7 linked regions of the Homo sapiens genome follow. The protein of the gene in region 1 interacts with the protein of each later gene in a pairwise test. Each region holds a gene or a part of one and is shown in the gene's direction. Other genes may lie near its edges. The genes, in order: ZNF620, JRK, EAF1, EXOSC5, CINP, BFSP2 and NDOR1.

What was found.
Region 2: the proteins of ZNF620 (region 1) and JRK interact in binary tests that used the Homo sapiens proteins (3 or more experiments, as listed by UniProt).
Region 3: the proteins of ZNF620 (region 1) and EAF1 interact in binary tests that used the Homo sapiens proteins (3 or more experiments, as listed by UniProt).
Region 4: the proteins of ZNF620 (region 1) and EXOSC5 interact in binary tests that used the Homo sapiens proteins (3 or more experiments, as listed by UniProt).
Region 5: the proteins of ZNF620 (region 1) and CINP interact in binary tests that used the Homo sapiens proteins (3 or more experiments, as listed by UniProt).
Region 6: the proteins of ZNF620 (region 1) and BFSP2 interact in binary tests that used the Homo sapiens proteins (3 or more experiments, as listed by UniProt).
Region 7: the proteins of ZNF620 (region 1) and NDOR1 interact in binary tests that used the Homo sapiens proteins (3 or more experiments, as listed by UniProt).

Annotation. Positions count from the first base shown.
Region 1 is NC_000003.12:40,512,082-40,516,416, forward strand, and holds part of ZNF620 (zinc finger protein 620), read left to right. Parts: intron 1-320; coding exon 321-434; intron 435-3,778; coding exon 3,779-4,335. UniProt on the Homo sapiens protein: May be involved in transcriptional regulation.
Region 2 is NC_000008.11:142,659,677-142,664,011, reverse strand, and holds part of JRK (jerky protein homolog), read left to right. Parts: 3' UTR 1-4,335. UniProt on the Homo sapiens protein: May bind DNA.
Region 3 is NC_000003.12:15,430,133-15,434,467, forward strand, and holds part of EAF1 (ELL-associated factor 1), read left to right. Parts: intron 1-1,954; coding exon 1,955-2,091; intron 2,092-4,215; coding exon 4,216-4,335. UniProt on the Homo sapiens protein: Acts as a transcriptional transactivator of ELL and ELL2 elongation activities.
Region 4 is NC_000019.10:41,390,309-41,394,643, reverse strand, and holds part of EXOSC5 (exosome complex component RRP46), read left to right. Parts: intron 1-1,663; coding exon 1,664-1,777; intron 1,778-2,681; coding exon 2,682-2,803; intron 2,804-4,335. UniProt on the Homo sapiens protein: Non-catalytic component of the RNA exosome complex which has 3'->5' exoribonuclease activity and participates in a multitude of cellular RNA processing and degradation events.
Region 5 is NC_000014.9:102,352,294-102,356,628, reverse strand, and holds part of CINP (cyclin-dependent kinase 2-interacting protein), read left to right. Parts: intron 1-731; coding exon 732-861; intron 862-4,335. UniProt on the Homo sapiens protein: Component of the DNA replication complex, which interacts with two kinases, CDK2 and CDC7, thereby providing a functional and physical link between CDK2 and CDC7 during firing of the origins of replication.
Region 6 is NC_000003.12:133,398,502-133,403,467, forward strand, and holds the start of BFSP2 (phakinin), read left to right. Parts: upstream 1-1,554; 5' UTR 1,555-1,582; coding exon 1,583-2,071; intron 2,072-4,966.
Region 7 is NC_000009.12:137,211,480-137,215,814, forward strand, and holds part of NDOR1 (NADPH-dependent diflavin oxidoreductase 1), read left to right. Parts: intron 1-1,022; coding exon 1,023-1,120; intron 1,121-2,300; coding exon 2,301-2,399; intron 2,400-2,487; coding exon 2,488-2,589; intron 2,590-2,724; coding exon 2,725-2,934; intron 2,935-3,090; coding exon 3,091-3,212; intron 3,213-3,318; coding exon 3,319-3,539; intron 3,540-3,615; coding exon 3,616-3,723; intron 3,724-3,927; coding exon 3,928-4,042; intron 4,043-4,179; coding exon 4,180-4,326; intron 4,327-4,335. UniProt on the Homo sapiens protein: NADPH-dependent reductase which is a central component of the cytosolic iron-sulfur (Fe-S) protein assembly (CIA) machinery.

The DNA of each region.
Region 1 (4,335 bases):
ATCACCTGTCCCTCCAACCCTGGGAGGGGCTGTACCCAAAACATGGGGGGGAAAGGAGCTCTTGGGAGCACAGCAAAGCCCCTTGTGTCTTCCAAGTTCTCTGAAGAAAACTTGAGATTCCCTTATGTGAGCGTGGGATTATTCTGGGACTCTGTGCCACTTTGTGGGAAATTTCTGTCCTCCAGCAGCATAGATTAAGTTTCTCCCTGACTCACCTTGTCTCTCACTACCTGGCTCAGCAGATAAAGATAAAGGGGGCTGCAAGAGGATCCTGGTTCCTGATTCCCCTTACCTTTTCCTGTTTCTTTCTCCCTGGGCAGCATTCCCATTCACCACGCCTGTTCTGGTCTCCCAGCTGGAGCAAGGGGAACTGCCATGGGGCCTCGATCCCTGGGAACCTATGGGCAGGGAGGCTCTCAGAGGTATCTGTCCAGGTGAGCATGAGAACCCACTAGCTGCCTTTTTGGCTTGGCTTGCTTTCTTGTTTTCACATTTCATTGTGCAAGAAGTGTTTCTTCTCTTGGGAGACTGTTTTTGTTCCTGTGGAATCATTACATGTGATTCTCTGAGTTCATGGTGGTAGCCTACCTCAACTGGGGAAGGGCCAGTCTCTTTTAAGACAGGAATGACTGTAAGATTTCTTTGCATATTCGTCTTTGCCTGTCCTCCTCACAACCTGCCAAGGGAGACTGTCTGATTGGGCAGCACTTAAACCAGCTCATTTCTTCTCTGTCACATGAAAACATTTTATTTTTCTGCCAGTTTGTTTTTGCAAAGATGAGGATGTCAGCCACCTTTGGAGGAAAATAGGCTTCTGGCAACATGGCTGGCCATCTGCATATCATAGGCTACATTGTTTAAGCACTGACTTAAAGAATAAAAAGTTTGTTTTTATAATGGAAATTTTCAAATATATGCAAACACCAGCATAATGCACTCCATGTATCCTTCATCCAGCTTCAACAGTCACAAATATCCTTTGATTCTTATTTCATCTTTCCCCCACAGATACTTAAAAAAATTTCTGAAGCAAAATTTATTGTAAATTAAAGGTGAATAACTTTCTCACTTCGATGGCTATTGATATAAGAATTAAAAATAGGCTGGGCATGGTGGCTCATACCTGTAATCTCAGCATTTTGGGAGGCTGAGGCAGGTGGATCACTTGAGGCCAGGAGTTCAAGACCAGCTTGGCCAACATGACGAAACCCCGTCTCAACTAAAAAAAAAAAAAAATATATATATATATATATATATATATATATATATATATGGCCAGGTGTGGTGGTTCATGCCTGTAATCCCAGCACTTTGGGAGACCGAGGTGGGTGGATCACCTGAGGTCAGGAGTTCGAGACCAGCCTGGCCAACATGGTGAAACTCCATCGCTACTAAAAATACAAAATATTAGCATGGACGTGGTAGCACGTGCCTGTAATCCTAGCTACTCAGGAGGCGGAGGCAGGAGAATCGGTTGAACCTGGGGAGTGGAGGTCGTAGTGAGCTGAGATCATACCATTGCACTCCAGCCTGTGGGCAGCAAGCCACCCAGGTGCCAAGGCAAGAGACTGAGGGCACAAGCTGTTCCAGTATAATAAAGAAAATATATAGAATAAGAATAATTATGCTAGAAATAGATTATAGATATGATTATATATTAATATTATTAATCATTAGTTTGTAGCATTACTCTTTATTCCAATATTATAATAATCTCTGTTCTACAATTATAACCTAGGAAAAACCAGGCCATACAGAGATAGGAGCTGAAGGGACACTGTGAGAAGTGACCAGAAGACAAGAGTGTGAGCACTCTGTCAAGCCGGGACAGGGCCACCAGAGGGCTCCTTGGTCTAGCGGTAATGCCAGTGCCTGGGAGGGCACCCCTTACTTAGCAGACCTTGGTCTAGCGGTAGCGCCAGTGCCTGGGAAGGCACCCGTTACTTAGCAGACCGGGAAAGGGAGTCTCCCTTTCCCCGGGGGAGTTAGAGAAGACTGCTCCACCACCTCTTGTGGAAGGCCTGACATCAGTCAGGCCCACCCGCAGCCATCCGGAGGCCTAACCATCTCCCTGTTGATGCTGTGCTTCAGTGGTCACGCTCCTGGTCCACTTTCATGTTCTGCCCTGTACACCTGGCTCTGCCTTCTAGAAGAAATAATGATGTAAGCTGTCCCCTCTCTCTCTCCGCCTCGGCTACCAAATAGGGAAGGGCCCCCTGTCTGGTGGACATGTGACTCGTGTGACCTTACCTATCATTGGAGATGACTCTCACTCCATACCCTGCCCCTTTGCCTTGTACATAATCAATAACAGCACGGCCAGGCATTCAGGGCCACTACCAGTCTCCGCATCTTGGTGGTAGTGGTTCCCTGGGCCCAGCTGTCTTTTCTTCTATCTCTTTGTCTTGTGTCTTTATTTCTACCATCTCTCGTCTCTGCACATGAGGAGAAAAACCCAGAGGCCCAGTAGGGCTGGACCCTACACCAGCCTGAGTGACAGAGCGAGACTCTGTCTCAAAAAAAACCCAAAAACATCAAAAATTAGCTGGGTATGGTGGTGTGCACCTGTAGTACCAGCTCCTGGGGAGGCTGAAGCATGAGAATCACTTGAACCCAGGAGGTGGAGGTTGCAGTGAGCCAAGATTGCACCACCACACTCCAGCCTGGGTGACACAGCGAGACTCTATCTCAAAAATAAATAAATACATAAAACATAGTATATTTTTTAATCTTTCTTATTCTGCTTCACCCATTCTCTGCCTGTGAAAATTTTCTGTGCTCTTCTGCAGAGAATGCCCATTACTGATCCACCCCCAAGTCTTGAGTTTAAGTTGTACCTTTCTGGATGTGACCTCAGGACCCTACGTCATCTGAGTAAAAATATTTTCTGAACAATTTTTTGTGAATGCATGCAGGCTGAAGATTTTACTTAGTCTGCAAAAGGTTTTGATAGTGGAGGGAATATTTCTCTTTGGTTTTCCCTTATTATCATGTGAGTTTAGTAGTTCACTTTTCAAACTGTTGTATTAAACAAATGCACAACCTATGAGACCTTTTAGGAAAAATGGCAAGCATCGTTACCAGGCCCTCTTTGGGACTTACATTCACTCTTGGAAGAGTTCTTCACATTTCCAGTGCTTTTTGGTTTTAAAGGCAAGCCTCCAAACCTTCCTTTCTCCTGGATGCTGTGGTGGTTGCCATGCATGGCATCCTCAACCACTGCATGGGAGCCTGCTGCTTTACTAGAGCCAGCTTGATGGTAGAGATCAGCTCTCTTTTCAAGGTTATGACATGCATGATGTCTTTTAACAAGCATCTCTTAAGGAATCTCAGCCTGTGGGACCTGTTGTAGTGCTTGAACTGCTCAGCCTGCCCCTTCTCTAATCTTGGGAGTCTTCCTCTCACTTATGGATTTCCATTTGTTACTTTTTTTATGTTTGCATCTTTATCCACCTCATTCATTTTTCTCTTAGTCTTTCTGCCCTAATTAACAGTCTTTGCAGTTTTCTGGTTTTCACACTGTTTATGGGAATGCCTCCTGGCCTTGCTTCCCTCCCGTCTCATAGAGTTTTCATGTCCCTTGCAGGGCTCTGTTGTGTGGTGATCTTAGGCAGCCATCTTGTGAGCATATTAGAAAATATCCATATATTCAGGGCAAATTAGAACCACTTGATTCTGTTTCTTCTTCAGCACAGATATTGTGTGTGTGTGTGTGTGTGTGTGTGTGTGTGTGTGTGTGATATCAGGGACTGACATTTGTATTTTCTTTTTGTGATAGGGGATGAGGCCAGAACTGAGAAGGAAGGATTAACTCCAAAGGATCATGTGTCCAAAGAAACAGAGTCCTTCAGACTGATGGTGGGGGGCCTGCCAGGGAATGTTTCCCAGCACCTTGACTTTGGGAGCAGCCTAGAGCAGCCACAAGGTCATTGGATAATTAAGACAAAGTCAAAGAGGAGACATTTCACAGATACCTCAGCCAGGCACCATGAGGCCTATGAGGTCAAGAATGGAGAGAAGTTTGAGAAATTAGGAAAAAATATTAGCGTCAGCACACAACTCACTACAAATCAGACAAATCCTAGTGGTCAGATATCTTATGAATGTGGACAATGTGGCAGATATTTCATTCAAATGGCAGACTTCCACCGACATGAGAAATGTCACACTGGTGAAAAGTCTTTTGAATGCAAAGAATGTGGAAAATACTTCAGATATAACTCATTACTTATTCGGCATCAGATAATTCACACTGGAAAGAAACCATTTAAATGTAAAGAATGTGGAAAAGGTTTAAGTTCAGACACAGCCTTGATTCAGCATCAGAGAATCCAC
Region 2 (4,335 bases), on another chromosome or scaffold:
TGCAGTATCAGAGGGTGGAGATGTCAGTCTGTCCACGTGGAGAGAAGTTGCCCTCCAGGCCGACAGGAGGCCATGCCCACCGCCCCTGGACAGGCTTCGTCTCAGAAGGCTCTATCTGCTGGGCTGGCGGCCATCCCCGTGTTGGGTGGACCCCGAGCACGGTTGCCTGAGGTCCGATGGCCCGAGAGCTGGGACTCAGTTCTTGGCCTGCTAGCGGCTGAACAGGCCGCACATCTCACTTCAGTTGTGGCCTCATTCAGCAGAATGACTCTGGAACCATCCTCTGTTACCCGCAGATCCTGTCCCATGGGCTCTGGCCCCAAGATGTTGGGGGGCCCCACGGAGAGTTGACTTGGTAGAGTTCCTTTCTGGGAAGAAAGTAGGAGTGGCTGACCAGGCCCTGCTCATCACCCGGATAGAGGACACGGACCCTGTGTGGTATTTTGGCATTTTGGCTCAGAGTCCAATGTACCATGTTGCCCAGAATTTCATACTTATGGCCTTTACATGAATACGTCTTGATCAGACATTCAGAGATTAGTCTTAGGTTTGCACGTAAGTCACTGAAAACAGTAAAACAGGCTGCTTAGATTTCTAGCAGTATGTGTGCTCTTATCCCCAGCTGTTAGCACGTTAGTAATACTTTTGGGGAGGAGTTGTCTGTCCTGGTCAGTTTTCACAGAGGCGGTTGTAAGAGGATGTGGTTATTTTCTCCATGTCTGTAGTTGCTTTGCGGCATCTCCATTTCACGGGCAACACTCACTGCCTGCAGCTGAGATTCCAGAACGCCCTGTGTCCACAGTGATTAGCCTCGTCTTTCAGCGAGCATAAAATAGGTGCATTGTCCTTTTCTTTTCTTGAGGCAGGGTCTCACTCTGTTGACCAGGCTGGAGTGAAGTGGTGTGATCCCAGCTCACTGCAGCCTCGACCTCCCTGGCTTGAGTGATCCTCCCGCCCCAGCCTCCTGAGTAGCTGGGACTAGAGGCACGCACCACCGCGCCTTTTTATTTTTTTTGTAGAGACAGGGTCTCACTGTGTTGCCCAGGCTGGTCTTGAACTCTTGGCCTCAAGCGATCCTCCTTCCTCATCCTTCTAAAGTGCTGGGATTACAGGTGTGAGCCACAGCACTCGGCCTAAATAGGTTTTTCTTGCTATGTTATTTTCAGTGCTTTGCCCTTGAATTCTTTTCCTCTCTTAAATTCATATCATTTGGCCGAGTCAGCACGTAGTTTGCATTCCAGCGTCTGCTGTTGATTCCACTGAAACCTCTGTTCTCATGAAGGAGAGGATTTGGCTCGCTGTGGTTTCTCGTACTTTCACATCTCTGTAGATACAGGGGCAAAAGTCATTGCTGACAGAGCCCTATCTATGTCCTGGAAGTGTGTGTTTCTTGCTTTGAATGCATGTGTGAAGATTATAAAAGCCAAATAGTTTTTAAAGATCTCGGTGCTGAACGACAGTCCCAGTTCCCATTTGTGTCCCATTGTCTTTGTGGTGTCACCCGCACTGTTTGCTTCATTGTCTGGGGAACTTCTGCACATCATGTACTTTGTGCCATTTCTGGGCTCACGTGTCACTCCTAATAGAGCCTCTTAACCAAGACTGCTGGATTGCAGCTGCTTGAGGCAACACAGGAGGTTAGAACATGTCCCGAGGGCTCTGAAACAGTAGGACATCCTGGGTGGGTGGAGCTGGGGAGGGCATGGGCAGGCCAGCTGGCCGAGCTCCTGGCTGGCTCTCCTGAGTCCTCTGGACATGGCTTGTCCCTGTCAGACTGTAGCTCTTCAGGACCTGAGCTCTTCCCGTTCTTGATCTGCTCTTGTGCTGACTGTGCTGGGCTGATGGGTAGGCGCTTGTCCCCAGTGAGTGGCTGTGTCCTCAGGGTGCCCCTCTTCCAGACCAACTGCAGCAAGGCCTGGAGCCTGACTCTAGGTGCAGCCCTTGTGGCTGGAATCCCTTGTGCCACCCAGGGGACTCGGGCCCTGCTCCTCCTGCAGCCCCTCCTCACCTGGGCTCGCTGCTGGAGTGAGGTTTTTAGGGAGCCCAGAGCGTACTCATCTCTGAGCTGCTGGGCCCAGCTGCCTGGTGCATACCTCTTGCCTCGGTCCTGTCCCCCAGAACGCTTTATGGAGACTGCCGTGTCCTCCGAGCACTTTGTTTTCACTTCCTGACCCGTCTCAGAAGCTCAAGTGGTTGAATGTTTTAGCCTCAGAATCTTTTTCCCCAAGCCCTCTCAGGTGGAGCCCCGCTGTACCAGACACCACAGCACAGCTCTGTGAGGCTGTGTCTCTTCACTCTGTTTCTGGGGCTGCTGAGGCCCCTGGGAAGCCCTGGAGCTTGCCAGAGCAGAGCGAGAAAGTCTCTGGTCCTGTTTAAATGCCTCCGCGTTTTATCTGTGAGCACCAGGCTGGAGCCACTCCCTGTCTTCTCACAGTGCCCCTGCAAGTTGCAGCCTCAGTTTTCCAGTGGCTCGTGGGGTAGCAGGTGCTGCGTCATATGGTTTGGGACCTCTGTGGCTGCTTCCAGCCTGCTAATAGAACCTCTTTCCACCACTGCCTTCATCTTTGGGGTGGCACCCCTGAGTGCTCAGGCCTGAGGGCGCTCCTGTGTCCTCACTCGGGACAGGCAGCCTCCACTCTGGGAGCTCCCATCCCTCGGGATGCCCAGGAGAGGCCATACTTTCAGGGTGGCATGGTGAATTCAGGGGTTAGGATGGGTAGGTGGTCTTTCAGCCCCTTCTACGTTGGGGTTGGTTTACAGAACACCTGTCCTGCCTGTGCCAGCCTGGCCTTCTGCGAGCACCCCAGGCACGCTGTCCTGGAAGTTGTCTGTCTCCTGCATAGGAGGGTCTAGAGCAGACCTTGCCCTGGGCCTGTCTGTGCGTGACTTCCATATGCTTCATTCGTGCTCAGCCATGGCTGAGCATGCGATGGAGAGCACCTGGACTGCCCCTGACGTCGCAGGCCACTGTTCTTATCCAGTGGGCCAAGTGATTGATTGCTAGTGGTGGAGTTGATTGGAAGAAAGGAAGTCGCAGCCCCTGCCCACGGCTTCCCCAGCTCGCTGGGGTTGGAGGACTGTCATCAGTTGTCCCCAGTTAAAGTCCATTTGGAGGAGGTTCAGGGTCCCAGTGGCTGGATGTGCTTGTGGAGGGACACGGTTTGAGGCAGGGGTTTGCAGAAGGTGTAGACTGCATCCATTCTTGGGAGGCTGTGGCACAGGGCAGCGACAACTTGGGACAAATCAAGACCCGTCCACACTGCACCTCAGGGACCTCACCTCACGCCCCACATAAATGTGCTTATTGGGGATCCGGGTGTGGTGGCTTCTGCCTGAAATCCCAGTACTCTGGAAGGCCACGGCAGGAGGATCACTTTAGTTCAGGAGTTTGAAACCAGCCTGGGCAACATAGGGAGACCCCATCTCTACAGAAAGTAAAAGAAAATGAGCCAGGTGTGGTGGCATGTGCCTGTAACCCCAGCTACTCAGGAGGCCGAGGCGGGAGGATCCCCAAGCCCAGGAGTTTGAGGCTGCAGTGAGTTATGGCCTCTGCACTCCAGCCTGGGTGACAGAGTGAGAGACCTAATCTCTAAAAACAAAAAATAACAAAATGTGCTTTGGGGTCAGGTGTGGAGATCAGGGTCGGGGAGGTCATGAGGTAGGTAGGGGTCAGGATGTGGACAGTCATGGGCTGGTGGGTGTGGCAGCCGTGAGGGGTGGGTGGTGGCCTGGGAGGCAGGGCCTGGGCAGGGCTTCTGCACTTCTGCTGCTTACCCAGCCCCCTCTGGGTTCGAGGACTCTCCTTGACAAGGGCTGAGCTCTCGGGCACTGCGTTGGACTCAGCTGCCTACTGGGAGGCTGGGGAGAATGGACCTGTGAGACCTTGTTTGTCCTCTTCCCTGCCCAGCTCTTGTAGACCCCAGGCCTGGCTGTCCGCAGGGCCAGGAGCTGCAGCCATGGCAGCCACCAGCCTCCCACATGAGCCCCAGCTCCCAGCCCCACACGCCCACTCCTTTGCCCATGTGGTGTCAGCTCTGGCCTCTGCTTCTACACATGGACCCTCAGACCTTGCACATCTGTTGTTTCCCTTGCAGGGCAGTGATGATGACATGAAATGAGGTGGGGTCACTCCTGTTTAGGGATGAGACTGGGGCCCAGGGAGGGGCAGGTGTGAAGTTGCTGAGGGCAGAGGGAGACCCAGGGCTACCTGCTCCTAATGACCAGCCTCACGTTCTCCACTGCTCACTCCCTGCTGTTCACCAGCTGCATGACCTTGAGCAGTGCACTCAACTGTAAACAGAGGTGAAAACACTCCTTTACCAACTGTTTTAGGGG
Region 3 (4,335 bases), about 25 Mb from region 1:
AAGTAATTTTGGGGAGTGGGGTGGGGTGGACTTCATGCTAGGCAGGTGCTTGATTAAAAATAATTCTTGTAATCCTAGCATTTTGGGAGGTGGAAGTGGGTGGATAGCTTGAGTTCAGGAGTTAAAGACCAGCCTGGGCAACATGGTGAAACCCCGTCTGTACCAAAAATACAAAAAATTAGCTGGGGGTGATGGCACATGTCTGTGGTTGCAGCTGCTTGGGAAGCGGAGCTGGGAGGATCGCTTGAGCCTGGGAGGTAGAGGTTGCAGTAAACCAAGATCACGCCACTGCACTCCAGCCTGGGCGACAGAGTGAGACTCCCCCTCAAAAAAAAAAAAAAAAAGATTATTCGTCGTTTTCCCCAATCTTCCTTTTCCCCCATCTGCTACTGAGTAGACAAGGTTCCTGTCTGGACACCTAGCCCCTCTTTTAGATATAGCTTTTCTCCCAAGCAACTCCAGACAGAAAAGCCCTAGGTGCCCTGCTGATTATATGGCCACAACAGCTCAGGAGTGTGAGGCAACCAAGCCAGGAGTTAAGGCAGGCAGGAACCACAGGTGTGGCACATTCAGCTGATTTAGGGATGAAGAACTAAATTGAAAGCTGGATTAAGAACCCTTGCAGAGAAAGACTTTTGTGAAGCTCTGCCCAAGGCAGCACTAATGACAAAGCACCAAAGGGTCACATGATGCTCTTAGTGAACATGTGTTATTGCATGTCACACCCCTGTCCTGGAACATAAGTTCTCGGTAGCTGGAGACAGAATGAAAAGTCTCTGGACAGGGAGATCTGGAAAGCTTTGTGGTGAGGAAAAATTGCCCATTCAAACTGCTGTTTGATTACTTGTTACCTTTGGCAAGTTACATCATCTCCCTTTGGACCTTAGTTTCCCATATGTAAAATGAAAGGTTTAGAAAAATGGTCCCTAAAGTTCTTTCTAGCTCTATATTTTTACTATATAAATAAGGAGTCAAAGAGCCAAGCAGTTTTTTATTCTAAGCAAGGCATTAAATATGATATTCAACAAATATTAATCAAATGCCTCCCACACATTGGCCCATTACTAGGCATGAAGTATATAACCTTGAACAAAACAAGCACATTTCTTGCCCTGGTGGAGCTTATGGTCTGGAGTTTAAATTAATACAAGAAAATATAGCAGTTATTCTACAAAATCAGGGACAGCTTCCTTAAGGAAGTATCTGTGAGCAGATCTGGAGGTTGGGTCATTTAAAGAGAGGGGGCAGGATATAGCTGGCAGAAGCCTTGTTAAAGCTGGCAGAAGCCTTGTTAAAGCCCAGAGGCAGGAGAGAGCTTGAGGATAGGAGGGAAGCCAGTTGCCTTCTGCTCTGAAGCACATGCGCAGGGGAGTATGCTGCAGGGTGAGGTGGAGAGCCAGGGAAGGGCCCGGTAGTGCAAGGCCAAGTGGCTAGTTTAAAGATTTTATCCTTTGGCCTGAGAGCAATTGAGGAGTGATTGAAAGGCTTAGGCAGATGAGTGACATGATTTATTTATTCTGAGCCAACCAGGATAATGACCTTCTCTTGGAAAATGCTCTGTTGGTTGCTTGACATGAGAAGGGGAAACCCTGGTCTCTCTAATGACAAAGAAATAGAGATCACTCACAGTTTTACTATACAGAGTGATAACTCTGCTTAGTATAATGAAAGTAATGGTTAATTTTTCTCTCTTGGAACGTATATAGTAATTAAAACTTTTATACTACCTTTTTGATTACTTAGAACGCGTTGCACATTCACAAATTCTTGCTATATTATTTCTCCTTTATTTTTGCCTCGGAAACCAGAAGGAGATAAAATAGAAATCAGTTCAACCTGTTCTTTTTGAATAGCTCTGATAAAAGATTTCATCAGGTGGAGTCATCTATAAATTCAGTTGATATTCATAACTGGTATGTTTAGTTTGATCATCTTATACTTTTGTGGCAAATAGGGATCCACACCACCCATGACTGTGTTCAAGGGGAACAAACGGCCTTACCAGAAAGACTGTGTGCTTATTATTAATCATGACACTGGTGAATATGTGCTGGAAAAACTCAGTAGCAGCATTCAGGTGAAGAAAACAAGGTATGTGAATAGCCAGATGCAGGTTTATATCATGTTTCCAAACCTCTGTTATCTATTCAGTTTTTATAAGGTTGTGAACATCTGCTTGCTCATAGTGTTCTATCAATAATCTTAACACTACCTGTGCTCAGACAAAATATGTAAATATGTGCTCAGAGTAAAATATGTCTTCCTCAAATGCAATAAAAAGAAATAATGTTTTTTAAGACCTAAAACATGGGAACCATTAGGGAAAGGGGGATATACTTTATAATTAAGCCTATTTTGTTAATCTCATGATTGCTACAGTACCACCTAAGGGATAAGATAACTTATAGACTTATAATTATGAAGGAGCAATATATACTATACTTAACTGGAGTGAAAACATTAATTTTTTTACAAGATACATTTGAGATTACTATAATACCAAAATAAAACTTTGCCTATTTTTTAATATAGTGAACTCTTTAATTCAACAGTTGCTACATGTCTAAAATGAAGCCAGTTAGAGTTTATTTGAAAATAAAAATTCATTCTATAAATAGAAATAACCTAGTGGTTCTATTTGTTACCATATAATACAGTATTTTTTTTTTTTTAAAGAGTCGAGGTCTCTTGCTGTGTCACCCAGGCTGGAGTGCAGTGGCATAATCATAGCTCACTTATAATACAGTAATTATTATAATACAGTAATTAAATTGTAAAGATTGTCACAACCTGATGTTTTTTATGCTTCGTTAAGCCATTTTTTTTTCATTCATTCATTCCACAGAAAATAAAAATAGGTACCATTTATTGAGGGGGTATCATGTCCCAGGCACTCTGCTAGATGCTTTATATGCATTGTTTTATCTAACAAGTAATTTTTAGAAAGGTGTTATTATTATTTTTTACTTCTTTTGTTAAAAATATGGAATTGTTCATGAGTTTGTGTGTCATCCTTGCACAGGGGCCATGCTAATCTTCTCTGTATCATTCCAATTTTAGTATATGTGCTGCCGAAGTGAGTACGAAAGGTGCTATTATCTAAAAAAAAAAAAAAAAAAAAAAAGGTACGGAGACTGAGGGTTAGAGAGCTTGACCTACCCCGGAGAGTGTGCTGCAGAGTCCTTGCTCCTGTCCTGCCACTCTATTTATTTGTATTCATTACCTACAGTGAACCAGGTGCTACCGATATTCCTCCAATATCTGATGGTTGTGGTATATTCCCTTACTACTCAGTGTGATATGGGAACTAACAGTATCATATTACCTAGATGATATGCAGAATCTCAACACCTATGAGATCTGAATCTGCAGAGATCACCAGGTGATTTGTGCATAAGCAAAAGTTTTAGAAGCACTAGGCTAGTCCATTTACAAAAGAAATTGTTAACTGATAGAATATTCTCAGCTTGGGATGGAATTCTGCTTGTCTGCCAGCAAGAGCTGGCATGTGATGAAATGAACAAGCAGTATATAGATAATGGAAAAAATTTTCAAGCTGGGCAATATTTTAGGAGCTACTTTATTTAGGAACTCATGCACTCATGATTATAATTACATAATGATGTTTTGGTCAGTAGTGACCTACATATATGACAGTGGTCCCTTAAGATTCTAATGGAGCATGTATGGAAACCTGATATACGGCACTTGATATTGGCATTGCAGATCAAGTAGGGGGAATGACTGATATTCAATTATGGTGGTGGGACATTTGGGTTTTCATGTGAAAAAATTATATGCTATATTGGTTTGCATAAGTACATTCTGCTGTTTGCATGATGAAATCACCTCATGATGCAGTTCTCAGGACTTACCCTCATTGTTAAGGGATGCATGAATGTATTTTCTACTAGTAAAATGGATTTTCATAGTTTCATTATATCCTACATTTGTTTGCTATACATTTGAGCTCATCGAGGGCAGTAAATATTCTATTCATGTCTGTATCCCTGATACATAATATAGTACTGGATTACAGTAGACACTCAAATGTTGAATGAATAGCTCACATGACAAAATTACAAGTATCAGTATTTTGAAGTGGTCTGGAAAGAACATGGGGTTCTACAGAGACTTCTGAGTTTTCAGTCACCTGGACAAATTTGAGAACCACTATTTTTGCCCTGCTAATTTAATGTCTGTATCTCCTTTCAGAGCTGAGGGCAGCAGTAAAATCCAGGCCCGAATGGAACAGCAGCCCACTCGTCCTCCACAGACGTCACAGCCACCACCACCTCCACCACCTATGCCATTCAGAGCTCCAACGAAGCCTCC
Region 4 (4,335 bases), on another chromosome or scaffold:
CTGGAGGTTGAGGTACAAGAATCACTTGAGCCTGGGAGGCGGAGGTTGCAGTGAACTGAGATTGCGCCACTGCACTCCAGCCTCCTGGGTGACAGAGGGAAACTCTGTCCCAAAAAAGAAAATAGAGACAGGAGTCTTCCTATGCTGCTCAGGCTGGTCTCAAACTCCTGGCCTCAAGCAGTCCTCCCACCTGGGCCTCCATAGTGCTGGGATTACAGGTGTGAGCCACCATGCCTGGCCTAAAATGTATTTTTTTTTTTTTATTGAGACTAAGCCTTGCTGTTATTGTCCAGGCTGGAGTGCAATGGTGTGATCTCGGCTCACTGCAACCTCCGCCTCCCCGGTTCCAGCAATTCTCCTGCGTCGGCCTCCCAAGTAGCTGAGATTACAGGCACCCACCACTATGCCCAGCTAATTTTTGTATCTTTAGTAGAGATAGGGTTTCACCATGTTGACTAGGATGGTCTCAAACTCCTGACCTCAGGTGATCCACCCACCTCAGCCTCCCAAAGTGCTGGGATTACAGCAGACAGTACTAGAAGCCAGGCTGTTTATTTCTTAGGTTTTACCTCCTGTACCCCGTTCATAGCTTCTGGGGAAATAAGGAATCAGGATTCATTCCAGATATTATCCCTTTCTCAGGTGTCCAGACTGATGCAAAATTTGGGGGCCAGTGCCTAAGGGAAGAGCTGGGCTGGGGAAGCTTTGGAAAGAGAAGTTGAGAGCAGCTGCAGTAAGAGGGAGGATGGTTAGCTTTCAGGAAGAACTTCCTGTTAAAAGTTACTAATACCAGCCGGGCACAGTGGCTCACGCCTGTAATCCCAGCGCTTTGGGAGGCGGGCAGATCATGAGGTCAGGAAGTTCGAGACCAGCCTGACCAACATGGTGAAACCCAGTCTCTACTAAAAATAAAAAAATTAGCCAGGTGTGGTGGCGCGCGCCTGTAATCCCAGCTACTCAGTAGGCTGAGGCAGGAGAACTGCTTGAACCCGGGAGGCAGAGGTTGCGGTGAGCCGAGATTACGCCACTGCACTCCAGCCTGGGCGACAGAGCAAGACTCCATCTCATTAAAAAAAAAAAAATTACTAATATCAGGGCCAGGCGTGGTAGCTCACGCCTGTAATCCTAGCACCTTGGGATTACAGTTGCCCAGGAGTTCGAAACCCGCCTGAGCAACATGGCAAAATCCCCTCTCTACTAAAAATATAAAAATTAGTCAGGCATGGTGGCACATGCCTGTAGTTCCAGCTACTTGGGAGGCTGAGGCGGGAGGATCACTTGAGCCCAGAAGGTCAAGGCTGCAATGAGCCGTGATGGCACCACTGCACTCCAGCCTGGGCAATGAGAGTGAGACCCTGCCTGAATGCCTGAATGGACGAATGTTACTAATACAGCTAAAGTCTGTTGCACATTCAGCGTGAGCCCCGCAGTGTTCTAAGTGTTTTCTGTGAATTGTGTCCTTTGATCCTCACAAGACGCTAGCGGGGAGGGACTGCTATTTTCCCCATTTTACAAATGAGAGAAATGAAGTGAGTGCTCAAAGAATCAGTACCAACAAATGGCGGGGGTGACGTGGGGAGCCCTGGCCGTCAGGCTCAGTGCCACAAATGGGGCCCCAGGAGCAGGGAAGCTGTGAGTGAGGCCCTCCCTGCTGTCTCCTCAGGTGACACCTCTGTCCTGGCGGGTGTGTACGGGCCGGCCGAGGTGAAGGTCAGCAAAGAGATTTTCAACAAGGCCACACTCGAAGTGATCCTGAGGCCGAAGATTGGGCTGCCTGGTAATTGGGCCCTGCTGAACCTCTGAGTGGTGCCCAGTTTGTCAAAATCACCCCCCCAGCTCCTCCCTACCAGCTGCCCCGAGTCTCCACTCCCCGCTTGGGTCTCCACTCAGCTGTTTCTGTCTTTAACTCTCCGCCTCTAATTAATAACTCATCTTCTGTTGCTTCTCTCTCTGCCTCTAATTTCTCCCTCCCTCTTTTCTCCCTCTCTCTGCCTCCACTCTCATTCATTCCATTAACCTGTTTTTCTTTTATTTATTTTTATTTATTTATTTTTTTTTTGGAGACAGTGTCTCGCTCTGTCACCCCGGCTGGAGTGCAGTGGCACGATCTCAGCTCACTGCAACCTCTGCCTCCCAGATTCAAGCAATTCCCCTGGCTCAGCCTCCCGAGTCGCTGGGATTACAGGCACGTGCCACCATGCCCACTAATTTTTTGTATTTTTTTAGTAGAGATGGGGTTTCACCATGTTGGCCAGGATGGTCTTGATCTCCTGACCTCAAGTGATCCGCCCGCCTCAGCCCCCCAAAGTGTTGGGATTACAGGCGCGAGCCACTGTGCCTGGACCATTAACCTGTTTTTCCACCCTTTTACCCTCATATCCCTCAGTCCCCACTGACTGGACCTGCTAGGGTGGGAGTGGGCGTGGGTAGCAGCACAGACATGGAACTCCCAGGTCTTCTTCCCTTGGATGGTTCCCTTGGTGGATGCTGGAGGTAGCAGGGGTCAGTGGATGGCAGTCAGGCCTTGCCTTCTTCCCACTGGAATCTTCCATCATCCCTGCAGGTAACTGCACCATCCCAGGCTGAGACCGTGAGCCCTTTCTGGGAATTTGGGTGAGGCGTATGGAGGAAGGTGAGTCAAATGAAGGGGAAGACCCTGAACCTCTCTTCAATTTCCCCAGGTGTTGCAGAGAAGAGCCGGGAGCGGCTGATCAGGAACACGTGCGAGGCGGTGGTGCTGGGCACGTTGCACCCCCGCACCTCCATCACCGTGGTGCTGCAGGTTGTCAGCGATGCCGGCTCTGTATCCTTTCTGCCAGGCCTCCTCCTCCAGGAAGTCTCCTGATTGCTTCCCTCCTGGCGGATACATATACCCTCACTGCTAGCCAGAAAGCCTTCAAACACTTGACAGGTACCAGCTCACTGAAGAAGGAGAGCAAACAGCCTGGGTGCTTACTTATGTGCCAGGCACTGTTCTGTGTGCCTTATGCACATTAACTCATGTAATATAGCACATGCCCTTATGATCCCCGTGGAAGTGGCAGAGCCAAGACTTAGACCCAGACCGTCTAGTTCTAGAGCCCACGGACCCTGGCAGATGAGTGTTCTTATGTTCGCATGTTTCAGGTGACAAAACTGAGGCCCAGAGAGGGGAAGGGGCTTGCCCAAGGTCACACAGCTGGAAGGCAGCACAGGCAGGACTCAAGCCCAGGCCAGTCTGACTCCAGAGCCTGTGCCAATCACTTCTTTTGTTTTTTGGGTTTTTTTGTTTGTTTTTGAGACAGGCTCTCACTCTGTCACCCAGGCTGGATGCAGTGGTGCAATGTCAGCTTACTGCAACCTCTACCTCCCGGGCTCAAGCGATTCCCATGCTTTAGCCTCCTGAATTACAGGTGGAATTACAGGTGCCTGCCACCACGCCAGGCTAATTTTTGTATTTTTAGTAGAGACGGGGTTTTGCTGTGTTGGCCAGGCTGGTCTCGAACTCCTGACCTCGAGTGATCAGTCCACCTTGGCCTCCCAAAGTGCTGGGGTTACAGGCATGAGCTACTGTGCCCGGCTGGCAATCACTTCTACTCGGCACCTCAGTGGATTTCAGGCCCTCAGTGCTGGGGGCGCCCTGAGCAGACAGCAGCTGAGTCAGGAGCGTGGCCTTGTAAGATCTCCATGTCTGAGGTGCGAGAGGTTGAGGTTGAGGACTAGAATTAGACACTGTAGAAGGCTTTACTGGAACGTGGCCCTGAACTGGACAGACATTTTATGGATGGGCAGAGAGAGAAGGTATTGTGACCCCATTTTACAGAAGTGGAAAGTGAAGCCCAGAGGAAGGCGTGGAGGATCAGCAGCAGAGCTGGAACCGGTTGACTAAAGCTGTGGTCTTTGTCTGGCTGCTAGGCCTGGAGAAGAAACACATTAGGAAACTGAGGCAGAGCCAGCTGACTCCCAACCTGTGCTCTCTTTCCACTGTGAGCTTCCTGCAGGCAGCAGCGAGGTGGCTCTTCCTCCATTGCCCTGCCAGCTCTGTCACCGGGGAGTGGCTGCTACCCAAGTTTCGGGCCTGGCTTTGCCAGTGCCTCCCCCTCGTGTCTTTGGAAGGTTTCTTCCCCTCTCTGACCCTATTTGCCAACAAATGTGTGGTACGTACTTCAGTACATACCTATTGAATATTATTATATTCCCCATCTAACAGATGAGGAGATTGAGACTCAAGGAGTAAGTCACTTGTTCAAGGTCACACAGCTGAGCAAAACTAGGTCTGGAACCCAGGGCTACTTGATCCCCGGACCACTTTTAACCACTCTGCCATACTGCCCTTCTGTGACCGATTAGTGATGT
Region 5 (4,335 bases), on another chromosome or scaffold:
TACATACAGAGGGTTGCCACAAACCTTCAATTTGTAAAAAATGCATTATCTATGAAACTGAATAAGGTGAAGCACAATAAAATGAGGCGTGCCTATATTCCTGGATTGTGAACTCTTTGAGGAAATGATCCATGTCTTATTCATCTTTGTACATCCAGCACCATGCCCTATGCCAAGGATGCCACACCGCTGAATGGTGTTTTTTTTTTTTTTGAGACAGTCTTGCTCTTTTGTGCAGGCTGAGTGCAGTGGTGCTATAATGGCTCACTGCAGCCTTGACTTCCTGGGCTTAAGTGATCCTCCCACCTGAGCCTCCTAAGTAGCTGGGACCACATACGTGTCCCACCATGCCCAGCTAATTTTTACTTTTAATTTTTGTGGAGATGAGGTCTCACTGTGTTGCCCAGGCTGGACTCAGACTCCTGGACTCAAGCAGTCCTCCCGCGTCCATCCCTCAAAGTGTTGGGATTACAGGCATGAGCCACCAAAACCGGCTGTCACATGGCTGAATTTAACTGACTTATTTTGGTGCAAAATTGAGTGACCAATGGACATATTCATTGCACATATAAATAATAACTGCATTTGTATCATAATGATATGAAAGAACAATGCTTATGCAAAATGTCCCACGTAACTATGTGGATATAGAGGTTTGTAGAATTTATTATAAGGAAATAAGGCAAGCTTAAAGAGTATATTTTGTACACATTATTTTCTATTTTGTTTAGGAATAAAGACAAGATAGAACTAGACAGCAGCAGCCCAGCCTCGAAGGAAAATGAAGAAAAGGTGTGTCTGGAATATAACGAGGAACTGGAGAAGCTGTGTGAGGAACTGCAGGCCACCTTGGATGGGTTGGTAAGACATAAAGACGCAGGCCACTTGTGGTCACTGTCACTGAATCCGATGGACGTATTTGGGGTTTGCTTGACCATTGGCCATCACTTACTCCTTCTCAGTCTCCTCTGATGTTCTCTTCCTCTGCCTGCTGCGTAAACCTTAATGTTCCCCAAGATGCTGTCTTAGACACTCACTCCTCCTGTGCGTCATCCGGGGAAATGTCACCCACTTTCAGGGCTCATCACATAGTAAATTTTTTTTTTTTTTCCATGATATGGAGTCTTGCTTTGTCGCCCAGGCTGGAGTGCAATGGCGTGATCTTGGCTCACCGCAAACTCCGCCTCCTGGGCTCAAGCGATTCTCCTGTCTCAGCCTCCAGAGTAGCTGGGACTACAGGCGTCCGCCACCATGCCTGGCTAATTTTTGCATTTTTAGTTGAGACAGGGTTTCACCATATTGGTCAGGCTGATCTCAAACTCCTGACCTCAGGTGATCCACCTGCTGGCCTCCCAAAGGGCTGGGATTACAGGCATGAGCTACCACGCCCAGCCACAGAGTAAATATTTTAGGCTTCCAGGGCCAGCCAGTCTCTATCTCAGCTACTCATCTCTGCCACATAGGACTAAACAGCCATAGATAATATATGCGTAAATGGATGTGGCTGCATTCCATGAAAACTTTATCTTTGTTTTTTGGATTTTCTTTTTTTTTTTTTTTGAGATGGAGTCTCATTCTGATACCCAGGGTGGAGTACAGTAGCATGATCTTGGCTCACTGCAAACTCCGCCTCCCAGGTACAAGTGATTCTGCTGCCTTAGCCTCCCAGGTAGCTGGGATTACAGGCTCGTGCCACCACATGAGCTAATTTTTGTATTTTTAGTAGAGACAGCATTTCACCATGTTGACCAGGCTGGTCTCGAACTCCTGACCTCAAGTGATCAGCCTGCCTTGGCCTCCCAAACTGCTGGGATTACAGGCGTGAGTCACCGCACCTGGCCTTTTTTGTTTTTGTTTTTGTTTTTTTTGAGACAGGGCCTCACTCTGCCACTGAGGCTGGATGGAGTGCAGTGGCGAGATCTTGGCTCACTGCAACCTCCGCCTCCTGGGTTCAAGCAATTCTTGTGCCTCAACCTTCCACATAGCTGGGATCGCAGGTGTGCGCCACCATGCCCAGCTAATTGTTGTATTTTTAGTAGAGATGGGGTTTCACCATGTTGGCCAGGCTGGTCTCGAAGTCCTGGCCTCAAGTGATCCACCCACCTCAGCCTCCCAAAGTGTTGGGATTACAGGCGTGAGCCACCATGTTCGTCCAGGAAATCTTTATCTTTGGACACCGAAATTAGAATTTTGTATAATTTTTATGAGTCACAATCACTATTGTCCTTTTGGTTATTTTCAACCATTTAAAAATGTAAAAACCATCTTAGCTTATGGGCCATACAGAAATAGGCTATGGGCCAGAATTGACCTGTGTTCCAGGGATAGTTTGCCCATCCCTGATACAGCACGTAAGAGACTAAAGTGTTTGTTTAATGAACTAATAACTAAATTTCAATACCTACCATACTGGCCACCAGATGTGAAGATAACACCACCTTATTTCTTTGCTAGGCACAGGAAATCAGGTTTTACACATATTTGAACTTGGATAACTGAAGCTTACCCATAAACATTTAAGATCTTTATATTTTCACCTTTTTGTTTGTTTGGAGACAAGGTCTCGCTGTGGAATGCAGTAGTATGATCACAGCTCACTGCAGCCTTTACTTCCTGGGCTTAAGTGATCTTCTTGCCTCAGCCTCCCGAGTAGCTGGGACTACAAGCATGAACCATCATGCCCGGCTAATTTTTAAAATTCGTTTGTACAGACGGGGTTCTCATGTTGGCCAGGCTGGTCTCGAACTCCTGACATGAAGTGATCTTCCCACCTTGGCCTCCCAAAGTGCTGGGATCACAGGTGTGAGCCCTGGCGCCCTGCCTTAGCTTTTCCGTCATGTCTTGTTTTGGCTTCAGGATCCTGTATGACATCGAGTCCCCTTGTTTCCTCAGGCTCCTTTTGGCCGTGACAGTTTCTCAGACTTCCCTGTTTTTGATGACTTTGACAATGTTGAGGGATACTGGTCAGGTATTTTGTAGAACATCATGAGATTTATCTGATGTTTTTCTCCTAATTAGACTGAGGTTACGGGTTTTGTTCAGAGGAGGACCACAGAAGTAAAGTGCCATTTCTATCATGTCATATCAAGGGCACGTACTGGATATACTGTCATCAGGACTTTTCTTTGGGTCCCACCTATTGCCCGGGCTGGTCTCAAACTCCTGGGCTCAAGCAGTGCTCCCACCTCAGCCTCCCAAAGTGCTGGGATTCCAGGCGTGAGCCACTGTGCACAGCCAGGACTTTCCACTGCTGAAGTTGACCTTGATCACCTGGCTGGGCAGTGTTTCCAGGTTCCTCTGCTGTGACGTTGCTCTTTCTCCTCCTCCCACGCTGTGCTCTTTGGCAGGAAGTCACTATGCATAGCCCACACCTGGGGGTAGGGACGTATTCACCACCTGCTTGAGGGTGCAGTATCTACATAAATTATTTGGAATTATTCTGCGTGGGAGATTTGTTCCCTCCCTCCCATTTGTTAATTTTTTTTTTTTTTGAGATGGAGTTTCACTCTTGTTGCCCAGGCTGGAGTGCAGTGGGGTGATCTCTGCCCACTGCAACCTCTGCCTCCTGGGTTCAAGTGATTCTCCTGTCTCAGCTTCCCAAGTAGCTGGGATTACAGGTGCCTGCCACCACACCCAGCTAATTGTTGTATTTTTATTTGTTTTTTTTTAATTTTTGTTTTGGCCAGGCGCAGTGGCTCATGCCTGTAATCCCAGCACTCTAGGAGGCCGAGGCAGGTGGATCACCTGAGGTCAAGAGTTTGAGACCAGCATGGCCAACATAGTGAAACCCCATCTCTACTAAAAATACAAAAAATTAGCTGGGGGTGGTGGCAGGTGCCTGCAATCCCAGCTACTTGGGAGGCTGAGGCGGGAGAATCACTTTCGGAGGTTGCAGTTAGCCGAGATCAAGCCACTGCACTCCAGTCTGGGCCACAGAGTGAGACTCCGTGTCAAAAAAAAGAAAAAAAGAAAAAGAAAAGTGGTTTGGGAATAAGTTCTCATTCTATGTTCAAAACCAAAAGTTGATTTTATAGGGTATTATTATTTTTCCTATTTTCCTCTATCCGTTATAGAGAATGGTTTCCAGACCTGGTCTGTGTCTTTCATAACTTTGACCTTCTGGGGGTTTCATGCACCGTTCTTCCTAAGCTGGGCTAACATTTCACTGTGGTCTGTGTTTGCTGTGGGAAGAAGCCACCGATGTTGAAATGTAAGGGCCTGCTGTTTATGCACTGTTCATTCAGGGCTGCACGTGCCTATGTGACTTGAATTCTTTATTGATGGCTGAGCTGCAGGATTGAGCATGACTTCTTGCCTGGGGTCAAGGCTCCAGAA
Region 6 (4,966 bases), about 93 Mb from region 1:
GAGTGTCCTGGTCAGTAGGAAGGAAGTGCACACAGGGTCCTCTAGTAGGCGACCAGGTTTTTTACCTCTACCTGCGTGACCTCAGGTAGGTACTCTGCTCTCTGGGTGGTGGGCAACAGGGAGGCTCCTAAGTAAGTCAGTGGCCCAGAGTTTGGAAGAGGTTGTCTGCCCCCAGCTCTGCTACTTTCTGGACATAGAACCTTGGGCAAGTCATTGCAGCTCTCGGGGTCCTCCTCACATAAGAGGACAGTGGCCAACTGTAGGACATGTCATTTTAGAGCTGTGAGGTACACAGCCCATATGGCAGTACCTGTCAACCCTGGACCTCCTTCCTCCTGAGGTTGAGTTGAGAATTCCACGAAATAAACCATAGGATTCATGCACACACCAGGCTGGATCTGCTACTCACTAGAGATTGACTCCCTTCTCCTTCTCTCACCTGAGGTACATTCCTACATTACAGCATCTGGAAAAGTATCCAGCTCTGGGGTTTGGTGACCTGGTTTCTCCAGGGTAAAACTTATGTACAGAGGTTTTTAGGTCCATGTTGTCATCCTGTAACTGGGGGAACCTTTCTGATCCTAGAGAAGTGATTGAGGTGTGACCCTTGGTGGCTTAGTGGATGCCAAGGTCAATAATTAAAACCCAGGGGTGTCATCATATCCTAACTTGGGGCACCCTTGGAGAGGCTTACCAGAAAACACCCTCGTTGTTGTTTTTATTTCTCAGTTTTCCAACAGATGGAGAAGCAGAGGTGTAGGGAATGGCCGGAACATGTGTGGGATCTGAATTTGCCCAAGGTCCTTATCTGGTGCATCAGAGAGTTAAAGGCCCAAGCCAATGTTCAGACAGTGAGGTCCAGAGGGAGGAAGCATCCTGGCCAACAGCAAGCAGCTGATGAACAGCAGAGCATTAGAGGACAGAGATGAGGAGGAAAGGAGAGAGGTGAGGGAAGGACCTGAAGCTGCTGCCAGGACTGAGAGAGGAAACCATAGGCAAGTCTTTTCTCTTGGGTCCCTGGAGCTGCCTCCTGCCATTTTTCATCCTCTATTGCCTGTGTGGACATGTGTTCACATTCACATGTGCCAGCACACATAGGGATGTAGAAAGCCCTGAAATAGCTAGATTGAGTCCTAGCTTGTAATCTGAGGTCTGGGGCAAGTGATCAGTACACTTGTCATCTGAGGTCCTTGAGCCTCAGTTTACTCATCTGTAAAATGGGGTTGCTTGATGCCTGCCTTGCCCACTTAGGTAGTAAAATGCACAAACCCAAATGGTCTACCTCCACAGCCTGCACTGATCCAGCCTCCCCCACCACCAGCAGAATAATCTGGGAGGTTGGGCACATGACCCTGCATCAAAGAATGCATGAGTGCCTCTCTGCACACAGCCCTGGGCAGTGCCCATTTCTCTTTCAGCTCAGTGAATGATGGAAACTCATGGAAGACAGCAGACAAAGCAGCCCCAGGGATAGGGGAGATTCCAGAGAGGCCCGTGACCAGGCCACAGGGATGCTGGGGCTGTAAACCAAAAGCCACTGGACTCTGTAAACCCACTGGGCACCACAGAGGCAGAAGGGGTGATGAGTGAGAGGCGAGTGGTAGTGGACTTGCCCACCAGTGCCAGCTCCAGCATGCCCCTCCAGAGGCGCAGGGCGTCCTTCAGGGGGCCACGGTCATCATCCTCCCTGGAGAGCCCCCCAGCCTCCAGGACCAATGCCATGAGTGGCCTTGTCCGAGCACCCGGGGTCTATGTAGGAACAGCACCCAGTGGGTGCATAGGTGGCTTGGGTGCCCGTGTGACCCGCCGGGCCCTCGGCATCAGCAGTGTCTTCCTTCAGGGCCTGCGGAGCTCAGGCCTGGCCACCGTGCCGGCTCCAGGTTTGGAGAGGGACCATGGTGCTGTTGAGGACCTAGGGGGCTGCCTGGTGGAATATATGGCCAAAGTGCACGCCCTTGAGCAAGTCAGTCAGGAGCTGGAAACACAACTGCGGATGCACCTGGAGAGCAAAGCCACACGCTCGGGAAACTGGGGTGCCCTACGGGCTTCCTGGGCCAGCAGCTGCCAGCAGGTAAGTGTCCAGGCTGTGCCAAGGGCTTTGCAGAGGGCTGGGAGGGGCTGCTGAAGGCAGCGGGTAGGGTTGTGAGTAGGCTGAGGCCAGAGAAACTGACCATAATCCCCTACACTTTCACACTTAAAATGGTAATGATAACAACAATGCTACCTTTTACCGAGGTTTACTAGGAGCCCACGCTAGCCCCCATACGTGCACTACCCACTGTCTTCTTTAAACTTCAAAGAAATGCTATGCAGTGGATCATTCACTGATTGCATTTTTCAGATGAGAAACTGAGGCATGTAATTTGCCCAAGACTTCAAAGCTAGTAGAGGGATGGAGATGAGATTTGAACCTGAATTTTTGTGCCTCCAAAGTTGCATTTGCCCCATTACCCTGGGGCTGCCTCAGTCACCTTTACTGTTGAGAAGGGATTTTTACAGCTATTATCCAATCAAATACCATTGGATGGATGAGGTGTTAAGAACAATGAATAAATGGAGGTGTGTTCCTGTATCCACCTACAACCACGCTGTTCAATAGAAATATGAACTACATTGGTAATTGACAAGTTTCTATTACCCACAGTAAAACACGTAAAAAGAAGCAGGTGAAGTTAATATTATAGCTTATTTAACTCTATATGTCCAGAATGTTATTTCAACATGTAATCAATACAAAATATATTAATGAGGTAATTTACATTCAAGTAGAGCTTTCTGCGTGATGGAAATATTAATATCTTATATCTGCACTGTCCAATCTGGCAGCCACTAGCCATATATGGCTATCAAGCACTTGAAATGTGGCTAATGAGACTGAGGAATTGCATTTTTATTTTATCTAATTTTCATTAATTTAAATGTAAACAGCCACAGGTAGCTAATGGCTATCTTATTGGACAGGGAAGGATGCAGAGGTTTCATCTTTCTCCCTTGCTTGGTCAGCCCTGCTTTTCCCACTCTCCAGGGTGATTTCTGCGGAGTCTGGAGCACATCCATCATGTCTGGCCTGCAGCCTGTAGTTCTAATGCTGGGACTCCAGCCAGCATTACACCTCTCAGCTGGTCTCTCTGTGGATAGCTGGCTTCACCTCTCCTCCTCCTCTTTCTCTCCAGATGCTGGCCTTGGGATCCCTCTGAGCAAAATCAGTCTCTAACCCACCAGGGACTGCCAACTCAGACCCTTGGCCCCCTGGAGTCCAGTATGCAGCCTCCCAAGAGGAGGTCACAAAATTTTATTTGTGTATAGCTGGGGGAAGCTAAGCAGTTGCACACAGGGACTCCCCATTTGCCCCTCCTGCCTCCCACTTCATCCCAGGATGCTTCTCCTGCACTGCTGTCAGTGCCCACTGACAGCACAGAGTGCATGATGAACAGCACCATCCTCTCAGGCTCTCCCCCTGGTGCTGCTGTTCTGCTTGCATCCATCTGGGCTGCAAGGGAGAGCCATCTTAGAACAGTCCAGGGCCTTAACGCCTGTCAAATCTAAGAGGCAGCCATTCCTCCAGGATTCTTCACAACTGTCCTTATTCCAAATATTGTGCCATAACAACCACCAGAACATCCCTAGATACTCCAATATGTCAGCATCTGCTGGACAATCGCTTGCAATCAGATGCCACACAGACTTGTCAGGAGAAATCAGGTATCCCAATGGCTAGGTTAAAAAGTAGGGCCACAAAACTTAGTTTATACTCAATAGATACTGACTTGTTCTGGCTCCAGATAGCTACAAGAGCCTTTGCAACTTACTAACTTCTCTGGGCCTCAGTTTCATTATCTACAAAATGGGTATAACAATGCTTACATATTCCAGCAAATCTGTAGACAAATAAGAGCCTGGCTCCTGCTTACAGGTAGAGTACAGACTAGGAAGCTCTAAAATCCTGTGAGAGCACCACAGCCACACACCAAGACATGCGACCTCTGTAGTTGAGGGTCAGGATCCCACATGGGCTCACTTTCCTCTTAAGTGACTATAAATGAGGGCCTGGGTATGAATAAAGTTCTCTTTTTCTTCTTTTTTAAAAAATCATGGACTTGAAGATAGAGTAAGACCAATTGATAAAATGGAGTTATTATTTCTTTTTTTTTTTTTTTGAGATGGAGTCTCATTCTGTCACCCAGGCTGGAGTGCAGTGGTGCGATCTCAACTCACTGTAACCTCCACCTCCCGGGTTCAAGCAATTCTCCTGCCTCAGCGTCCTGAGTAGCTGGGATTACAGGTGCACGCCACCACGCCCAGCTAATTTTTTTGCATTTTTAATGGAGATGGGGTTTCACCATGTTGGCCAGGCTGGTCTTGATCTCCTGACCTCAGGTGATCCACCCGCCTCTGCCTCCCAGAGTGCTAGGATTACAGGAGTGAGTCACCATGCCCAGCCTGGAGTTACTTTTTCTATATTGCACAGCCCAGCCTTTCAGCCATATTAAACTCTATTCCATCAAGAAGAACAAAAGAAAACTCCATAATTGAGAAATGCTCCTGATTTTTTCAGTGAATCTGGCCTCGTGGAGCTGCAGGAGGCCCCCACCAGGCCCCCACCCCTTTCCAGGCCTAGAGGAAAGGCCACCTCCCAGCCCAGTCCTTCCACAACACGCTGCCTTCATCTCACTTGGGGTCAGAGGCAGCCACTCTGCGGTCCTGGGCCCCAGAAATCCAGAGCTCTCTCCCTCTGCCCTCACTTAGGCCACTCTGGCTGGGGCTTCATGCCCACCTTTCCAGACTCTGGGCTCTGGTGTTCCGTGCTCCTCACAGCACTCCTTACCCCTCCTGTTTCTCCACCTGCAGCTGCCTCTTCCCCCCCTTGTCCACAGAACTCCTCCTGGTCCTGCAGCTCAGTTCCATGGCAACCCTCTGTGACTCCTCAGGGCCCATGCAGGGCCTGAGGCCTCAGAGCAAGCTCTCA
Region 7 (4,335 bases), on another chromosome or scaffold:
ATGCCAGTCGAGTGAGGGAAAAGTCACAAGAATGTTCTCTCCAGAACCCTTTTCTCGGGAAGGAGGAAGTTCACCAAACGGAGCAGGGAAGAGAGTCTTTTGGGATTCAGGAAGCAAGGGTGTCTCAACAGCAGGGCGCTAGGGAGGGTCTCGGGGGCAAGAGGCTGGGTACATTTGCTCGCATAGCGTGGCCCAGAGAGGCAGCTGATGAGGCAGTGAGGTCCCGGGAGGCCAGGGGTGGTCCAGGGCCAGGGTCAGAGCTGTGGGCTGACAAGGCCAGGGCCTCCCTGTCTGCTAGCCTCCATGCTTGGCCACGGGAAGGGGAGGTGGGTGGGCGGCGAAGACCACGCACACAGGCCACCTGGGATCCAGGTAGGGAGGGGGCAGTAGGTTCCTTGGGGGGGCCTCTGATCAAGCTGGGAGGACACCGTGGAAGGCACGGTGTGGAACCAGAGGATCTGGACCCTGTTGGCTCGAGGTCCTGCAGCCACGGAAGGAGGGGGATGTGTCTCAGCGACACTGGAACCTCAGAGGGCCGAGTGTGAGAGCCCTTGGGATGGACCTCAGAGGTCTGAGTATAGGAGCCTCTGGGACAGACCAACTCAGGGAGTGGAGGCCCACGCTCTGGCTGGGAAATGACAGGTGGAGGTGAGGGACCCCTGGGGCGGTGGACAGTTTGGAGACCAAGTGCAGAGCTGCTCCTGGCAGCTCAGAGCCTGGGGCAGAGGAGGGTGATGTCCCAGGAAGGAAGCTCCACGCAGGCCTGTAGAGCACAGCAGGGTCTGGCTCCTGTGGGCAGGGTGGGACCTGGTCTCCCTAGACGCTGGACCAGCCCTGCCTCCTCCCGGTGCCCATCATCCTGCAGGCTGGACCTGGGCCCTGCCTTTTGGTCAGATAGGTCCAGTTGTATTCTGCCCCCATCCTACCCACCTGCCTGTTCCCCTGAGACCCTCCCCTCACCCCCTGCTGTGGGGCTAGCCTAGAGGTCGAGGACTCTGACTCAGAGTTTCCTCCGGCTGTAGAACTTCTGGAGGTTTATATTCCGGAAGAACCTGCCCTCCACTGCCCTCTGTCAGATGGACTTTGCCGTCCTGGGCCTCGGGGACTCCTCATACGCCAAGTGAGTAGGGGATGGGACAGTGGGCGGACGGAACAGTTCTGGGGGTCGAGCAACAGGTGTGCTGGCAGAGGACCGAGACCAGCTTCCAGGGTCGGCCCCTGCGCGCCTCAGGGCCCTCGCAGTGGTACTGGCTTCTCCACAACGCTCCCTGGTGGGCACCCCAGGCTTCACGCTGCGGGGAGGGCACAGAGGGGAGCAGGCAGGGTGGCAAAGGGCTGGGCTCCAGCCACGCTGACGTCACACAGGCCTACCTGGCGCCGGTCCCCACTTTTACAAAAAGGCGTGCTGTGAAGTGTTGACGACTTTGAGCCTGGAGGAGGACCCCGTATGCTCCTGCCACCCCAGAGGCCACCTCTGCCTTTTCTCCTGGGCATTTTCACAGTGCTCCTCTGCACCCTAAGCAAGGAGTGGCATGTTCAGTGTGCAAATGGCATCTTTAGACCCCACAACGGTGAAAACCCCGACTGTCCACGTAGGGCCCAGGTCCGCTGAGCACCGAGCATCAAAAGCCGTTTGCATAGCCAGGTGTCAGTCATTTCAGATGAAAAAGAACGGGAAGATCGGAGACAGCTCCCCCCGGTTCTGCCGGGAGGTTTTGTTCCGTGCGTGACGTAGGTCCGTGCATGACGTTGTTTCCTGCGTGACGTTGTTCTGTGTGGGACACAGTGTTCGTTCAAGAGAGGGAGGGAGGCCGCTGCCGACAGCGTTCCCAGGGAGGAGCGTGACCCAGAGCCAGTCATGCCTCGGAACCAGAGTGAGAAGAGAAACTGACCCCCGGGAAGATGCCTGGCTCTCTCCCCAGCACAGAGTTTCTCAGCTGAGGAGTGACCCACATCTTGGCTGGGGGCCTGGAGGCCTCAGCTGCCTCAAGTCCCTGCCCAGGGATGAGGGCCCATCAGTGGGACGAGGCCGCCTGCTCCCACCCACACAGGCTCATTCTCTGCGAGCAGAGGACCTGCTGCTTGGCACCCTGGCAGCTGCCCTGGTCTCGGCAGCCCCTGGCGTGTGGAGGCCCTGCCCCCTCCTAGGGTGCGGCCAGCGTGGAGTGTGTTTTCCACCCGAGGGAGGCCCTCCCCAGGCTCCACTCTTCGCCCGGGCTCCACTCTCCCGGGTTCCACTCTGCCTGGGCACCACTCTCCGCCCGGGCTCCAGCCCAGGACCAGCCTCACTGTCTCCACAGGTTCAACTTCGTGGCCAAGAAGCTGCACCGACGGCTACTGCAGCTTGGGGGCAGCGCCCTCCTGCCCGTGTGCCTGGGCGATGACCAGCATGAGCTGGGGTGAGTCTGCGGGCGTGGTACCCGCCTCCACAGTCTGGTCTGGCCACACGCAGGGTCCGCTCAGGCCAGCGCACGTGCTCCCTCCCAGGCCCGACGCTGCTGTGGACCCCTGGCTGCGAGACTTGTGGGACAGGGTTCTGGGGCTGTACCCGCCGCCTCCGGGCCTCACTGAGATCCCTCCCGGAGTCCCGTGAGTGTGGGCCCCGGGTCACCCACAGGCGCAGCAGACCCAACCTGGCCTGGGGACCTCGCCCTGGGTCCCTCCCGTGTGGGTGGGCGGCCCCTGGGGAGTGGGTCCTGGTCTGACCAGCGTGCCCTCCCACAGCCTGCCCTCCAAGTTCACCCTGCTGTTCCTCCAAGAGGCACCCAGCACGGGCTCTGAGGGGCAGCGGGTAGCTCACCCCGGCTCTCAGGAGCCCCCGTCAGAGTCGAAGCCCTTCCTAGCACCCATGATCTCCAACCAGAGAGTCACCGGCCCCTCCCACTTCCAGGACGTTCGGCTGATTGAGTTTGACATCTTGGGCTCTGGCATCAGGTGGGGACTGCTGGGGACCGAGGAGGGCAAGGTGAGGTGGGCCGTGGGTCTGGGGTTCGGAGGAGGCTGGGCCGGGCTGCAGGGGATGACTTCTATCCGGGGCCCCGACATCCTCCCTGCGGCGTCCCCACAGCCCTGGTGGCTTCTTCCACACAGCTTTGCTGCTGGTGATGTGGTGCTGATTCAGCCCTCCAACTCGGCTGCCCATGTCCAGCGGTTCTGCCAGGTGCTGGGCCTGGACCCTGACCAGCTCTTCATGCTGCAGCCGCGGGAGCCAGGTGAGCCCAGCCTCGGCCACCCTGACTCTCTGCCCTCTCCCGTGCCCTGGGCCCCCACCCCAAGGGCTCCGCCGCAGCCCACGGAGGCCTCCCACTCACCCTGCAGATGTCTCCTCCCCCACGAGGCTGCCCCAGCCCTGCTCCATGCGGCACCTCGTGTCCCACTACCTGGACATCGCCAGCGTGCCTCGCCGCTCCTTCTTCGAACTCCTGGCCTGTCTATCCCTCCATGAGCTGGAGCGGGAGAAGCTGCTGGAGTTCAGTTCTGCCCAAGGCCAGGAGGAGCTCTTTGAATACTGCAACCGGCCCCGCAGGACCATCCTGGAGGTGAGATGGGAGGGCGGCAGGCCCAGCCCCTGAGCTACAGCCACGCTGCAGCCACCCTGAGACTCTCTTTGCCTAGGTGCTCTGTGACTTCCCGCACACAGCTGCCGCCATCCCTCCCGACTACCTGTTGGACCTCATCCCCGTTATCCGGCCGAGGGCCTTCTCCATCGCCTCCTCGCTGCTGGTGAGGGGCCTGGTGGTTGGAGCCCAGGACCGGCCCTGGGAAAGCTGGGACCGGGGCTGTGGGGTTTTGTAAGCAGGGGCTGCCCTCTGACCAGGTGACGTTCCCCCAGTCGGACTGCCTCTGCGGGAGGTAGGTGGGGCCCACGGCCCAGGCACAGGTGAGGGCAGCCTTGTTCCACCACCCCCACCCCGCCGTCCTCCCCAGACTCACCCCTCACGGCTGCAGATCCTCGTGGCTGTAGTGCAGTTCCAGACTCGCCTCAAGGAGCCCCGCCGGGGCCTCTGCTCCTCCTGGCTGGCATCCCTGGACCCTGGGCAAGGTGACCCCTGCTCCCAGGGTGGGGGCCGTGGGCCCATATCCCCTTCTCTCCCATGCTCATGCAAATGCTGGGCTAGGGCCCCAGCAGACTCAGCACAGGTCTTTGATCCTCTTCATGCCACCTCCTTCCTGCAATAGGACCTGTCCGGGTGCCCCTCTGGGTGCGGCCTGGGAGTCTGGCCTTCCCAGAGACACCAGACACACCTGTGATCATGGTGGGGCCTGGCACTGGGGTAGCCCCCTTCCGAGCAGCCATCCAGGAGCGTGTGGCCCAGGGCCAGACTGGTGAGCACC